Linked DNA regions of Homo sapiens: all the other regions are linked to region 3. Evidence: fine-mapped expression QTL. A gene starts in region 3. Each other region holds a variant in brackets. All regions are shown on one strand. Distances are between the middles of the regions. Region 1 overlaps ADGRA2 (adhesion G protein-coupled receptor A2). Region 2 overlaps BAG4 (BAG cochaperone 4). Region 3 holds the start of RAB11FIP1 (RAB11 family interacting protein 1).

Region 1 (4,205 bases), 53 kb before region 3:
GGGGTAAACCTAAGGAATTATTTCCCACCTCCCCTTCTCCTTGCCCCTGTCCCCACCCCGGTGGCTCCTTCTCTCGGGTCTCCACTTCTGCTGTCCCATCCCGAAAGGCAGAGCGGACCAGTGACTGGCGGTGCTGGAGAAGGTCACCGATGTGCTTCACCACAGACCGTTTGTCAAGTCTCAGAACTCGTAACCAGGCCAGCTGCTCAGCCATCCGCAGCAGCACAGCCAGCAGCTCCTGCAGGCGGGAGGACGCCGGGTAGGGCAGGTCCACATTTGCCAATTTACAAAATCGGGCAAGGGAACATGAAAGCCGATCTGCAGGCTGCAGCGACTGCCAAGCCAGGAAAGTCGCAGCAGTGATGACGGGCAAGGGATGCCTCCCGGTCACCAGCCACGTCTCATTTGCCAGCTCCACCAACTGCATTGTTCGAGACAGCATCTTCTCTTTGTCTTCCACGTATTTGGCTGGCACAGAAGGTGAAGCTTGGAACAGTTTGAAGCTGAAATAACCAAAATGAGGGTTGGATCTTAATGATATAGGGGCTGCTCTCCCACAGTGAGGAAAGACAGCCCACTCAAGATGGGGAAGCTATTCTGCCCTCAGGAATACTCAAGCTCACTGGGCAGCAAGTTAATAAAGGTAGTGAGAGAAAACAGGGCGTCTTCCGCTTGTTAGGGGAAGGTGGAGGGATGGAGGAGAGCACGAACATTTATTGGGCGCCTCCCAATCACCATTATTCTGAGTGCTTTACAACGTTCTCATTTAATCTACGTGCACGTGCACCATCTTATGTGCATGTATAGTTAAAAAACTTTCCCATAGTCATCCAGCCAGGCAGTAACCAAGCTTCAAATACAAGGCTATTTGACACCAACAGCCTCTACTTTCAACGTTATTTATCAGAAAAAAGAAAAGAACATAGCTACTTCAAATGAGAAAAGAGCCAGGCGCAGTGCTCACGCCTGTAATACCTGCATTTTGGGAGGATCAGGTGGGCAGATCGCTTGAGCCCATGAGTTCCAGGCTGCAGTGAGCTATGATGGTGCCACTGCACTCCAGGCTGGGTGAAAGAGACCCTGTCTTTAAAAAAACTAGAAAAGACTTAGCTTCTAAGCCCAGTTATGTCATTAACTAATATACTTTCAGCTTCCTCTGCAGATGATCCTGCTGAGACAGAGCTGGGCATTCAGCCACAAAGCCCATGGCACAGCACAACTCTAGGAACTGCCATGCACAGAGCACAAAACATGAGTGGTGCAACTCAGCAGCCCTGTGCCAAGACTCAGACCTATTTTCCCCAAGTCATTAGGTTGCTGTGAAGGCAAAGGGGTTTGAAAATTATAGCATTCTTTGGCGGGGTGCAGTGGCTCACACTTGTAATCCCAGCACTTTGGGAGGCTGAGGTGGGTAGAACGCTTGAGTCCAGGAGTTCAAGACCAGCCTGGGCAACATGGCGAAACCCCATCTCTACTAAAAACAAAAAATTAGCCAGGCATGGTGGCATGCACCTGTAGTCCCAGCTACTTGGGAGGCTGAGGCACAAAAATCACTTGAACCCGGGAGGTGGAGGTTGCCGTGAGCCGAAATCATGCCACTGCTCTCCAGCCTGGGCAACACAGCAAGACTCGGTCTCAAAAAAAAGAAAATTATAGCATTCTAAAAATGTAAAACAATATTAACCTTATGAGTACAAGTTTAAACTAAAGATCTTTCTCCCACATCCTTTTACATGGGCTTTGGTAAAAAAGAGATGGCCAAGGCCGGGTGCGGTGGCTCACGCCTGTAATCCCAGAACTTTGGGAGGCCGAGGCAGGCGGATCACCTGAGGTCAGGAGTTCGAGATCAGCCTGGTCAACATGGTGAAACCCTGTCTCTACTAAAAATGCAAAGAAAAACAAAAAAATTAGCCAGGCATGGTGGCAGGCACCTGTAATCCCAGCTACTCTGGAGGCTGAGGCAGGAGAATAGCTTGAACCCCGGAGGCGGAGGTTGCAGTGAGCTGAGATCGTGCCACTGCACTCCAGCCTGGGTGATAAGAGCAAGACTCCAAGAAAAAAAAAAAGAGA[T/C]GGCCAAAGGTCAAAGGATTCAGGTCTAAGGACCCATCCCATCCCATCCTACTGTCTCCCACCAGGGACGTACCTGCTGCAATAGGTCTTCACCAGTTCTGCCAAGCACAGAGATGGCACATCCAGTCCCAGGAGCTTCACTATCTGCATGTAAGTGCTAGAAAACACATCCAAATCTGCATACAACAGCGTGCAGATGGCCCCCATTGTTAGGGGCCAGTTATGCTGTCGGCAGGTGATTAAGACGCAGCACCCAACCAACACCTCCTTCTTTTGCAGCCTGGCCGCTCGGATGCCAGAGTGCCGATATGCCTGTTGGTAGTAGGCAACCGCGGTATCCTCAAATGTTGGTGGCAACTGCAGAACTCGACAAAGGTCTCTCACTCGCCGGAGACCTAGGAAAAACCCACGGCAAGAGTTAGAGGGGTCAAAGGAGCTATCGTGCAACTCCTAGAAAATTCTGCTAGGACTTACTTAGATCTGCTAAACTTGCCTCAGATATCAGATGCACAAATTATGTACCTTTCTGCATAGACAGGAGTGACACTTGGTATAGTCATTCTAAAGACACAAAAACATTTGTGTAAAGAAGTCACATTTCAGCCCACTAGTTTTTGCAGGCTGGTTTGATTCAGGGCCAAGCCCAAGTTTTATCCAGGCTCTTAGAGGCTACCTCAAACATACGTCTGATCAAACCCAAACCTTATACTGAATTGCTGCCTCTCTCAGAACCATCCCTATTTGTTTTATTTATTTTATTATTTTCTGAGACAGAGTCTGGCTCAGTTGCCCAGGCTGAAGTGCAGTGGCGCCATCTTGGCTCACTGAAACCTCCTCCTTCCAGGTTTAAGTGATTCTCCTGCCTCAGCCTCCCGAGTAGCTGGGATTACAGGTGTGCACCACCAGGCCCAGCTAATTTTTGTATTTTTAGTAGAGACGGGGTTTCACCATGTTGGCCAGGCTGGTCTTGAACTCCTGACCTCAAGCGATCTGCCCGTCTCGGCCTCCCAAAGTCTGGGATTACAGGTGTGAGCCACCATCCCCATTTTAAATTCCTAATTACCATTCTCTTCTACTCTACCTCACACCAGCAATGCTGAAAATAGGAAAAGTGAAAAGCTGGGCTAGGCCACCAGGATAGTTTTCTTTTATTATTATTATTATTATTATTATTATTATTATTTTTTGAGACAGAGTCTCGCTCTGTCACCCAGGCCGGAGTGCTGTGGTGCGATCTCGGCTCACTGCAAGCTCCGCCTCCCGGGTTCACGCCATTCTCCTGCCTCAGCCTCCCGAGTAGCTGGGACTACAGGCACCCACCATCACGCCCGGCTAATTTTTTTGTATTTTTAGTAGAGATGGGGTTTCATCGTGTTAACCAGGATGGTCTCAATCTCCTGACCTCGTGATCCGCCCGCCTCGGCCTCCCAAAGTGCTGGGATTACAGGCATGAGCCACCGCGCCCGGCTCATTATTATTTTTTTGAGATGGAGTCTCACTCTGTCACCCAGGCTGGAGTGCAGTGGCGCGATCTCAGCTCACTGCAACCTCCACCTCCCAGGTTCAAGCGATTCTCCTGCCTCAGCCTGCCAAGTAGCTGGGACTACAGGTACATGCCACCATGCCCAGCTAATTTTTGTATTTTTAGTAGAGACGGGGTTTCGCTATGTTTGCCAGGCTGGTCTTGAACTCCTGACCTCAGGTGATCCACCTGCCTAGGCCTCCCAAAGTGCTGGGATTACAGGCGTGAGCCACAGCACCTGGCCTAGGATAGTTTTCTTTAAAGCCACTGTGTTGTAAAAGGTCAATTCTCACCTCGTTGCTGGCTGCGACTAACTTGTTCGTTTTCCCCTGTGCTTCGGGAATATGTTACCTCTGTAAGATAATAAACAACAAATAGTGTGCTTAGCCTTTATTCATCAGACCCCTGCCCTCCCACCACACAAAACCAGGACGCAAAATTCAAATCATTGAGCATCTGCTGCTGCACAGTTAAAGGCCCCATCTGGTTTTCTATGTCTACAAGAGGTTCCGAATACACAGAGACTGGGAAAGGTTAGGACTGCATTAAAGCAGCTCCAAGTGTTCCAAATTTCCAGTCATCCTTCCAGTACATTCCATACAGGCAATTTTCC
Region 2 (4,205 bases), 320 kb after region 3:
AACAGTTATTTTTTAAGCTTTTGAGATAATTTTAGACTTACAGAAGAGTTGTAAAAGTAGTAGAGTTCTTGTATACTCTGCACCCACCTTGCCCTTATGTTAACATCTTACGTAACAATAGAACATTTGTCAAAATTAAGAAATTAACCTTGATATAATACTAACTAAAGTAGAAAGTTTAAAAAGTAGAGATTTTAGTCTTTTCACTAATGTCCTTTTACTGTTCCAAGACCCAGCCTTGCATTTAGCTATCATGCCTACGTCCTGTCTTCCAGTCTGTGACAGTGTATCATAACAGGGGATACCTGATGTTGTAATGTATTTCTGGTGTTGTTAACCTTGATCACTATGCTAAGGTGGTGTCTGCTAGGATTCGCTACTGTAAACTTACTGTGTTTTCCTTGTAATTATTGAATATTTGCTGGAGATACCCGGAGACTATGCAAATGTCCCGTTTCTGCTTAAACTTTTGCTCATTTTACTATCCATTGGCAGATCTTGCTTGTGGCAGTTACTACTGTGGTGTTCTAATGGTGATTTTCTATTTCTCTCAATCCTTCTACATTTATTATTGGAATTCTTCTGTAAGGAAGAGTTGTCAGTTCTGGATTTATATTTTTAACTATAATAAGATATTCAGGATAAGTATAGATTTAGAACTTAAAGATGTTAAATCATGTTAAAATTATTCCAAATACCAATATCAAAGAAAACTAAGTTGGTAATCTATCTCAGAAAATATATGAACTTAAGAAGGAAAATAGTATTTATGATTTGTAGAATTGGTTCAACTTTTGACTTAATACTGACTTTGGACTGAATTCAAAGTTTTCTTGAAATTTCACATCTGGACTTTTTAAAGTGTCTACATTTATATTACTTTGGGGATCATTTTGTCAAAGTCTTGAATAAAGTTACCCAGTCCTGGCATGATAAACACAACTATGTTTTTTTTTTTTTATAATAACCCTCTGTTGTTCCAAGTATGAATGCCAATGAAACTGTTTAAACAAATAAGCCCTAATGAAGTATACAGGGGTTGGATTATATGTGTCTCCACATGTTGGTGCAGAATTCTTTTAAATGCTTTTAAAAATGGGGTTCTGAAAACAGTTTTTCAGTTGGTTAATGTAAATAATACCATTAAAGCTAGGCAGGTTAAAAAAATTTTGAAGAATGTAGATTAAATAGGCATAAAAAAGTTTTTGGGGGATGGATAGTTGATGGAGCTTTTCTTTTACAACTTTACTTTTTTTTACTTATTTTTTTAAAAAAGTAAGGAGTTTACCTCAATTCGTAGAAGTTACGAGTTTAAAAAGTCAGTTCTATGAAAGGCAGCATTCTCCTGATCCCACCCCCATTTCTCCTTCTCTAAAGGCAACCACTTTCAACTGAGTTTTTCTTTTGTTAATCAAAAAATTTTGTTTTTAGAGACAAGAGTCTTGCTATGCTGGTCTTAAATTCCTGGGCTCAAGTGATCCTTCTGCCTCAGCCTCCTGGGTAGCTGCGACTACAGGCATGGACCACCTCAACCAGCTTCAACTGAGTTTTTATGTTTTTTTTGAGACGGAGTCTTGCTCTGTCGCCCAGGTGGGAGTGCAATGGCGCGATCTCGGCTCACTGCAACCTCCACTTCCCAGGTTCAAGCCATTCTCCTGCCTCAGCCTCCTGAGTAGCTGGGATTGCAGACATGTACCACCACGTCCAGCTAATTTTTGTATTTTTAGTAGAGGCGGGGTTTCACCATGTTGGCCAGGCTGGTCTCGAACTCCTGACCTCAGGTGATCTGCCCACCTTGGCCTCCCAAAGTGCTGGAATTACAGGTGTGAGCCACTGTGCCTGGCCAGGTTTCCAGGTTTCTCTCTCTCTCTCTTTCTCTCTCTCTCTCTCTCTCTCTCTCTCTCTCTCTCTCTATATATATATATATATGTTTTCTTTACTTTTTTTTTTTTTGAGACAGAGTCTTGCTCTGTCACCCAGGATGGAGTGCAGTGGCATGATCTC[G/A]GCTCACTACTGCCTGAAATTCCTGGGCCCAAGGGATCCTCCCGCCTCAGCCTCCCCAGTAGCTGGGAGGCATGCATTATGGCACCTGGCTAATTTTGTAATTTTTTGTAGAGATGGAGTCTTGCCATGTTACCCAAGCTAGTCTCAAATGCCTGGCTGGGCTCAAGTGATCCTCCCTCCTTGGCTTCCCAAGTGCTGGGATTACAGATGTGAGCTACCACACCTGTCCTCAATATACTTATTTGGTAGTTTCATTGTACGTTATCCTGACTATGTAAATGCTAAGGAGAGTTTAGCTATATAGTAACCTGATTACTTTTCCTTTCCTAACAACTTGTTTTCCCTGGAATTAATCATCTGTCATATTTGTTTTGTTTGCTTATCTACCTAAGACTGATTTGACCTTCTCTCAGTCGTCTAAGTCTCTCAAGATGCTCAGACAAGGCCCGGCATGGTGGCTAATGCCTGTATGCCCAGCACTTTGGAAGGCCAAGGCGGGAGGATTGCTTGAGCCCAGGAGTTCAAGACCAGCCTGGGCAACATAGTGAGACCTCGTCTCTATTTAAAAAAAAAATTAAAAAATTAAGATAAATACAAAATGATTAAAAATTATTAATATTGGCTGGGCGCGGTGGCTCACACCTGTCATCCTACTGCTTTGAGAGGCTGAGGTGGGTAGACAACTTGAGGTCAGGAGATCCTCCTGGCCAATATGGCAAAACCCCATCTCTACTAAAAATACAAAAATTAGCTGGGTGTGGTGGCGCATGCCTGTAATTCCAGCCACTTGGGAGACTGAGGCAGGAGAATCACTTGAACTCAGGAGGTGGAGGTTGCAGTGAGCTGAGATCGTGCCACTGCACTCCAGCCTGGGCAACAGTGAGATTCCGTCTCAAAAAAAAAAAAATAAATAAATATATATATATAAAACATATAAATATATATTAGAAATATATATTTAAAATATTAAATATACATTAAATATGTAATATATATTTAATATATAATATATATTTAAAATATATATAATATAAATATATATAATATATATATATAAATATTTTATCAATTTCAAACTTCTGAAGAGTCTATCCTGAACCCTTCTGACTGGAAAACTAGTATGTTCCTGGCATAGTACATAGGGTCATGCTGTGGATTCTTTTTGTCTCTTCTTTTGGTTTTCTGTTTTTTGTATCCTATGTCTTTCTCTTTTTGTTTATTCCGTCATTTGGTGGAGCATATTCTCCAGGTGCTTCCTGGAAAAGGGTGCATGGGAAATAATTTATTTTGATCTTGCATATTTGAAAATGTCTGTTCCACCTAGCCAATGGATTGATAGTTTGGCTGGGTATAGAATTCTAGGAAATGATTATCTTAAGGATTTTGAAGGCATTGTTATATTGTCTTGTAGATTCCAGAATTGCTGTTGAGAAGCATATGCCATTCTGATTCAAGATCCTTTGTATAAAACCTGATATTTTTCTCTAGAAGCTTATAGAATTTTTGGGGGGGCCCCATTTGTTCTGAAATTTCCTAAGAATAGCTTTGGTTTAGGTCCATTTTTATCCGTTTTGCTGGGGCCATTTCATTCTGGCAACTCATACCATTAAGTCCTGTGAAATTTTTTGATTTTTTGTTTGTTTGTTAATTTCCCTCTTTCCTCCATCCCAGTCTTCTCTGTTAATACTTTCTAGAATTACTACTGTTTTGACTGTAGGCCTCATAGACTGGTTCTTTAATTTTCTTATGTTTTCTGTTTGTTTGTTTTTTTTTTAATGTTTTGCCTTTTTGTGGTACTTTGTAGGAGATTTATACAACTTTATCACTTTTTATTTTTATTTTCTGTGTGACAGGGTCTCATTCTGTCATCCAGGCTGGAGTTCAGGGGCACAATCTCTGCTCACTGCAACCTCTGCCTTCCTGGTTCAGTTGATCATCCTGCCTCAGCCTCCTGAGTAGCTGGGTTACAGGTGCACACCGTCACAACTGGCTAATTTTTTTTGTATTTTTTTGTAGAGACAGGGTTTTGCTAAGTTGCCCAGGCTGGTTTTGAAATCCTGAGCTCAAGCGATACACCCACTTTGCCTTCCCAAAGTGCTAAGATTACAGGCATGAGCTACCATGCCTGGCGAACTTTTTCTTCTGACTTCTAAAACATTGTGTCTTACATTTCTTCCATCTTTTTTTTTGGTTTTTTTTTT
Region 3 (4,205 bases):
AGCCTACATGCTGAAATGGAACCCACCCCACAGTAAAGGGAGCCTCCAGAGGACAAACCCTCTGGCTTTTCCTGTCTCCCACAGAAGGGAAAGTTAAAAGGCTATGTATATCTAAAACACACAAAGCAAATCAGTGTGATTCCTAGACTATAGGCTTTCGGTGCTAACTGACTGGCCTGTGTATTTAAGATCTAACAAAGTAACCAGCTAAGCTAATCGAGGCTAGCTTTGGCATACTAGATGAACATAATCGAACGTTCCTTTGGGTGAAGCACTGCCCTTTCCGAACACCTGTGAAACAAATAATTCGGTAATATCATGGAGTGAATGGTTTTTGCCCAGTTTTTACTGCAGAAGTGAAATAACCTGACACAATCTTTGGGAGCTACAGGCGAGCAGACATCCACCAGGATTAGGACCAGAGAGAAGAACTCTACCAACTCCAAAAGGAAACAATGCCCAGTTCTGCTCCGTCAAGGGCCCACCCGGGCTCCTTCCAACCTGGAGAAATCTTTACTAACATGGGGCCCAGGGCACACACCACACTGTTGTAACATTCTTTCTGTAGGGGCAAATTCTCTTCACCAACCCCCTAGGCAAGTATGAGGTAGGGGAAGGGGTTAGCAAGTCATGTGACAGCCGGCAAACGCCATTCCCCTCCCCCAACCTCCACCCACCCCGCATTGTAAAGGCGTTGCGCCCGGGGTTAGCCTTTAGGGTGGGGGTGTCAGCTGGTTTCATGCCTCCTGTTCCTCTGCCCTGCGCCCTGGCCCAGTCATTCTCGGCTCGAAGTGTTCTTCTATTCAGTGAAATACCCAGGAGGCCTTCCACCCAAGCGAAGGCGAGTATCAGACACGGGCTACCACCCTAGTAAGAAGAAGGCACCTGCCCACGTATAGTTGGAATTCATCTAAAATTCACTTAGTGCTTACTGTGTGCCAGACGCTGAGGGGCGTCCTGCAGATTCAAAAGCGCCCCAGGCCCGGCGCGGTGGCTCACGCCTGTAATCCCAATACTTTGGGAGGCCGAGGTGGGCGGATCACCTGAAGTCAGAAATTCGAGACCAGCCTGGCCAACACGGTGAAACCCCGTCTCTACTAAAAATACAAAAATTAGCCGGGCGGGCCGGGCGCGGTGGCTCACGCGTGTAATCCCAGCACTTTGGGAGGCCGAGGTGGGTGGATCACGAGGTCAATAGTTCAAGACCATCCTGGCCAATCTGATGAAACCCCGTCTCTACTAAAAATACAAAAATTAGCCGGGCGTGGTGGCGCACGCCTGTAGTCCCAGCTACTCGGGAGGCTCAGGCAGGAGAATCGCTTGAACCCAGGAGGCGGAGGTTGCAGTGAGCCGAGATCGTGCCACTGCACTGCAGCCTGGCGACAGAGTGAGACTCAGTCTCAAAAAAAAAAAAAAAAAAATTAGCCGGGCGTGGTGGTGCGCGCCTGTAATCCCAGCTACTCGGGAGGCTGAGGCAGGAGAATCACGTGAACCTGCGAGGCGAAGTTTGCAGTGAGCTGAGATCGTGCCATTGCCATTGCACTCCAGCCCGGGCGACAGAGACTCTGTCTAAAAAAAAAAAAAAAAAAAGCGCCCCAGATACGGCCCCTTCTTCCAAGAAGACCCAAAGCTGGCAGAGCTGGGCGGGACAGCCGCAGAAGGGGAAGCCAGGTGAGAACACCAGCACCGGCCGAGGGCTCCGTCCCGAAAGGCCTTCCCCGCTGCTGCCCGGCTTACTCTCGAAGGGTCCAGCGCCCAGACCGCCCTGCCGGAGGGGTCCGCGCCCCCAGGCCGGGCCCTCCCCTCCCCGCCCGCACTCACTGCGTCTTCCTGCGGCCCTGGTCGCGGTGCAGATCCCGCAGGTCCACCTCGGCGCGGCCCAGGAACTTGTCGAGGCCGAGCAGCGCGCGGTGCAGCACGGTGAGCTGCAGGGTGGCGGCGGCCGCGGGTCCGGAGGACAGCAGCGATGGCAGCTCGAAGGTGGCCTCCTCGCGCCACACGGGCGCGCCCAGGCTGCGCTCCGACACGGAGGTGGCGTACTTCTCCTTGCCCACCTGGATCACCGCGTACGCGTCGCTCGTGCCCCCGGGGCCCTTGGCCCGCAGGCCCCGCGCCTGCAGCACCGTCACCTGCACGTGGGTTGGGGACCACACGGCCCCCAGGCCCCGGCCAGCCGAGACCATTAGGGACATGGTGACGATAACACTCCAGAAGCGAGGAGAAGATCGCCGCGACTGGCGGCCTCCACGGCCCGCCCCGGCGACCAGGCCACTTTAAGGCTTCCGGCCACACCCCCGCCAGGCCACGCCCCTCATGGCCAAGGCCACGCCCCTGCCCGAGCCGCCTGCTCCACCTGCTGCGCCGCGCCCCGCCCCGCCCCGCCCCGCCCCGCCGGCCTCAGCAGCGCGGGCAGCTCCGGGCACCCGGGCGCCGGAGGCGGGGCTGGCGCGGCCAGGCAGGCAGGGGATCACGTGCGCAGGGGCGGGCGCATCGAGAATCTAATCTGAGAGGTGGTAGGTGACGGATGGGGTCCCCAGCTGCCAAAGGTCGCACGGCGGGAAGGAGCTGGCCGAAGCACTGACTTGGAAGTCAGACCTCATTTCCAGGGTCACATCGCCAGTCGTGGCCTTGCGCGGATTACCTAACATCAAGTCTCAATTTCTTCACCTGACAATCACCTCCTAGGATTGCTGTAAAAAATAATAATAATAATGCATTACAGTTCTTGGCCCAGTGCCTGGCTCATGGTGAGTTCTCAGTAAATAACCATGACCAGCACGTTGGGAGGCTGAGACAGGAGGATCTCCTGAGCCCAGGAGTTCGAGACCAGCCTGGGCAACATAGCCAGATCCCCGTCTCTACAAAAAAAATTAAAAATAATTAGATAGGAGTGGTGGCAAGCGCCTGTGGTCCCCGCTACTTGGGAGGCTGAGTCTGGAGGATCTCTGGAGCCCAGGAGGTCGAGGTGCAGTGAGCCGAGATCGTGCCACTGCACTCCCAGCCTGGGCAACAGAGCAAGACCCTGTCTCAAAAAAATAAAGTTGGTAACTATGAGGGTGCTAAGGAAGATGCCCACCCAATTCACTGTGCTTTCTACTTCTCCCGCTGGAAAGCCTTGCTCTGGAGGAAGGCAGCTGCAGAGGAAGGTGAGGACCTTGTGAGGGCCGGAAAAGGGGAAGGTATCCTGGGGAGCATGAGTTCAATGTGGGAGTGTCCTATTTTGCCCTCCCCCCACCAGATAAGGCGAGGCTGAGTTAGAAAAAGGGAAGAAAGGAGGAACTGAAAATGGGATTGCCAAATCAAACATCGGGACAGTGGCAGGCCCCCAGCCCGCAGTTCCCCATTTCTCCCTTGCCAGGCCCTCTTTAGTCTCTCCCTGCCTCTATCCCTGGGCTCCCAGGCAGTCCCTTTCTTGTTCCAAATGCCTAATAGATCGGCTGCTTCCCTTCATTTCACAGGTCCTAGTTCAAAGGCTCAACTGTTTAACGAGTCATCAGATTGGAAAGGTCACTTGGAAGGTTTTAAAGTTTTACAGTTAAGGAAAGACTCAGAAGAGAGGAGTGACATGTCCAAGGTCCCTCTGCAGAGCTGGGACTGGGATCCCAGTGTCCTGACTCCCAAACAGCTGTTCAGTGCATCTCTTGATTCTTCCAGATCCACAGAACCCCAATCTTGGATGGCTACTCGTGTCCCTCCAATCTCCAGGCTCTCCTCCCTCTGGTTCACACTGCACATTGCTTCACTAACCTGCTGGCTGCCTCACCAGCAACCGCGTTACCTTCGGACTGAACAGAGATTTCAAGGTACTCCATTTTGACCCCACCCTACCTCATTCTCCTCTATCTCCCGAACAAACAAACCTGTAGCCCAGACACTTTTTACTTCCAGGCCTTTACGTTGTACCCTTGACTGTCTTTGCCAACCTCCCACTGCAAGGGTTCACTCATATTTCTCCAAGGTTTGACTTCCTATGCCCTGCTGAGGGCAGGGACCAGGTAGTGACTTATTCAACTTGTCTCCTTCACAGCCTCCAGCACAAACCTGGGTGCACAGTAGGTACCCGGGAAGTGCTACTGAACTCAAGAGTTTGCAGGTTAAGTTGGCCAACCATGAGGACCAAGTGTTTCCTTTTACCACGTAGGAAATTAGAAGACAGAGGTATGCCTCAGGTTTGCAACTGAGGGCAGCTGCAGTGTGAGAAAGGC

Evidence for each region.
Region 1: its variant is fine-mapped to the expression of RAB11FIP1 in whole blood (GTEx, PIP above 0.99).
Region 2: its variant is fine-mapped to the expression of RAB11FIP1 in whole blood (TOPMed, PIP 0.93).

The regions. Positions count from the first base shown.
Region 1 is chr8:37,844,711-37,848,915 of GRCh38, forward strand. It overlaps ADGRA2 (adhesion G protein-coupled receptor A2), which reads left to right. Exons shown (of 19, transcript NM_032777.10): 19 at 1-186. BRF2 (BRF2 general transcription factor IIIB subunit) reads right to left here. Exons shown (of 4, transcript NM_018310.4): 2 at 3,886-3,945; 3 at 2,144-2,465; 4 at 1-503. Among named protein-coding and RNA genes, the nearest start is that of BRF2, 3.0 kb to the right of the region's middle. The variant T/C (reference allele first, on the strand shown) is at 2,071.
Region 2 is chr8:38,212,360-38,216,564 of GRCh38, forward strand. It overlaps BAG4 (BAG cochaperone 4), which reads left to right. Exons shown (of 5, transcript NM_004874.4): 5 at 1-942. Among named protein-coding and RNA genes, the nearest start is that of DDHD2, 17 kb to the right of the region's middle. The variant G/A (reference allele first, on the strand shown) is at 2,005.
Region 3 is chr8:37,897,250-37,901,454 of GRCh38, forward strand. It overlaps RAB11FIP1 (RAB11 family interacting protein 1), which reads right to left and starts at 2,248. Exons shown (of 6, transcript NM_001002814.3): 1 at 1,822-2,248. The coding sequence starts at 2,192. RefSeq lists an enhancer at 1-503 and silencers at 1,633-2,062, 2,283-2,512.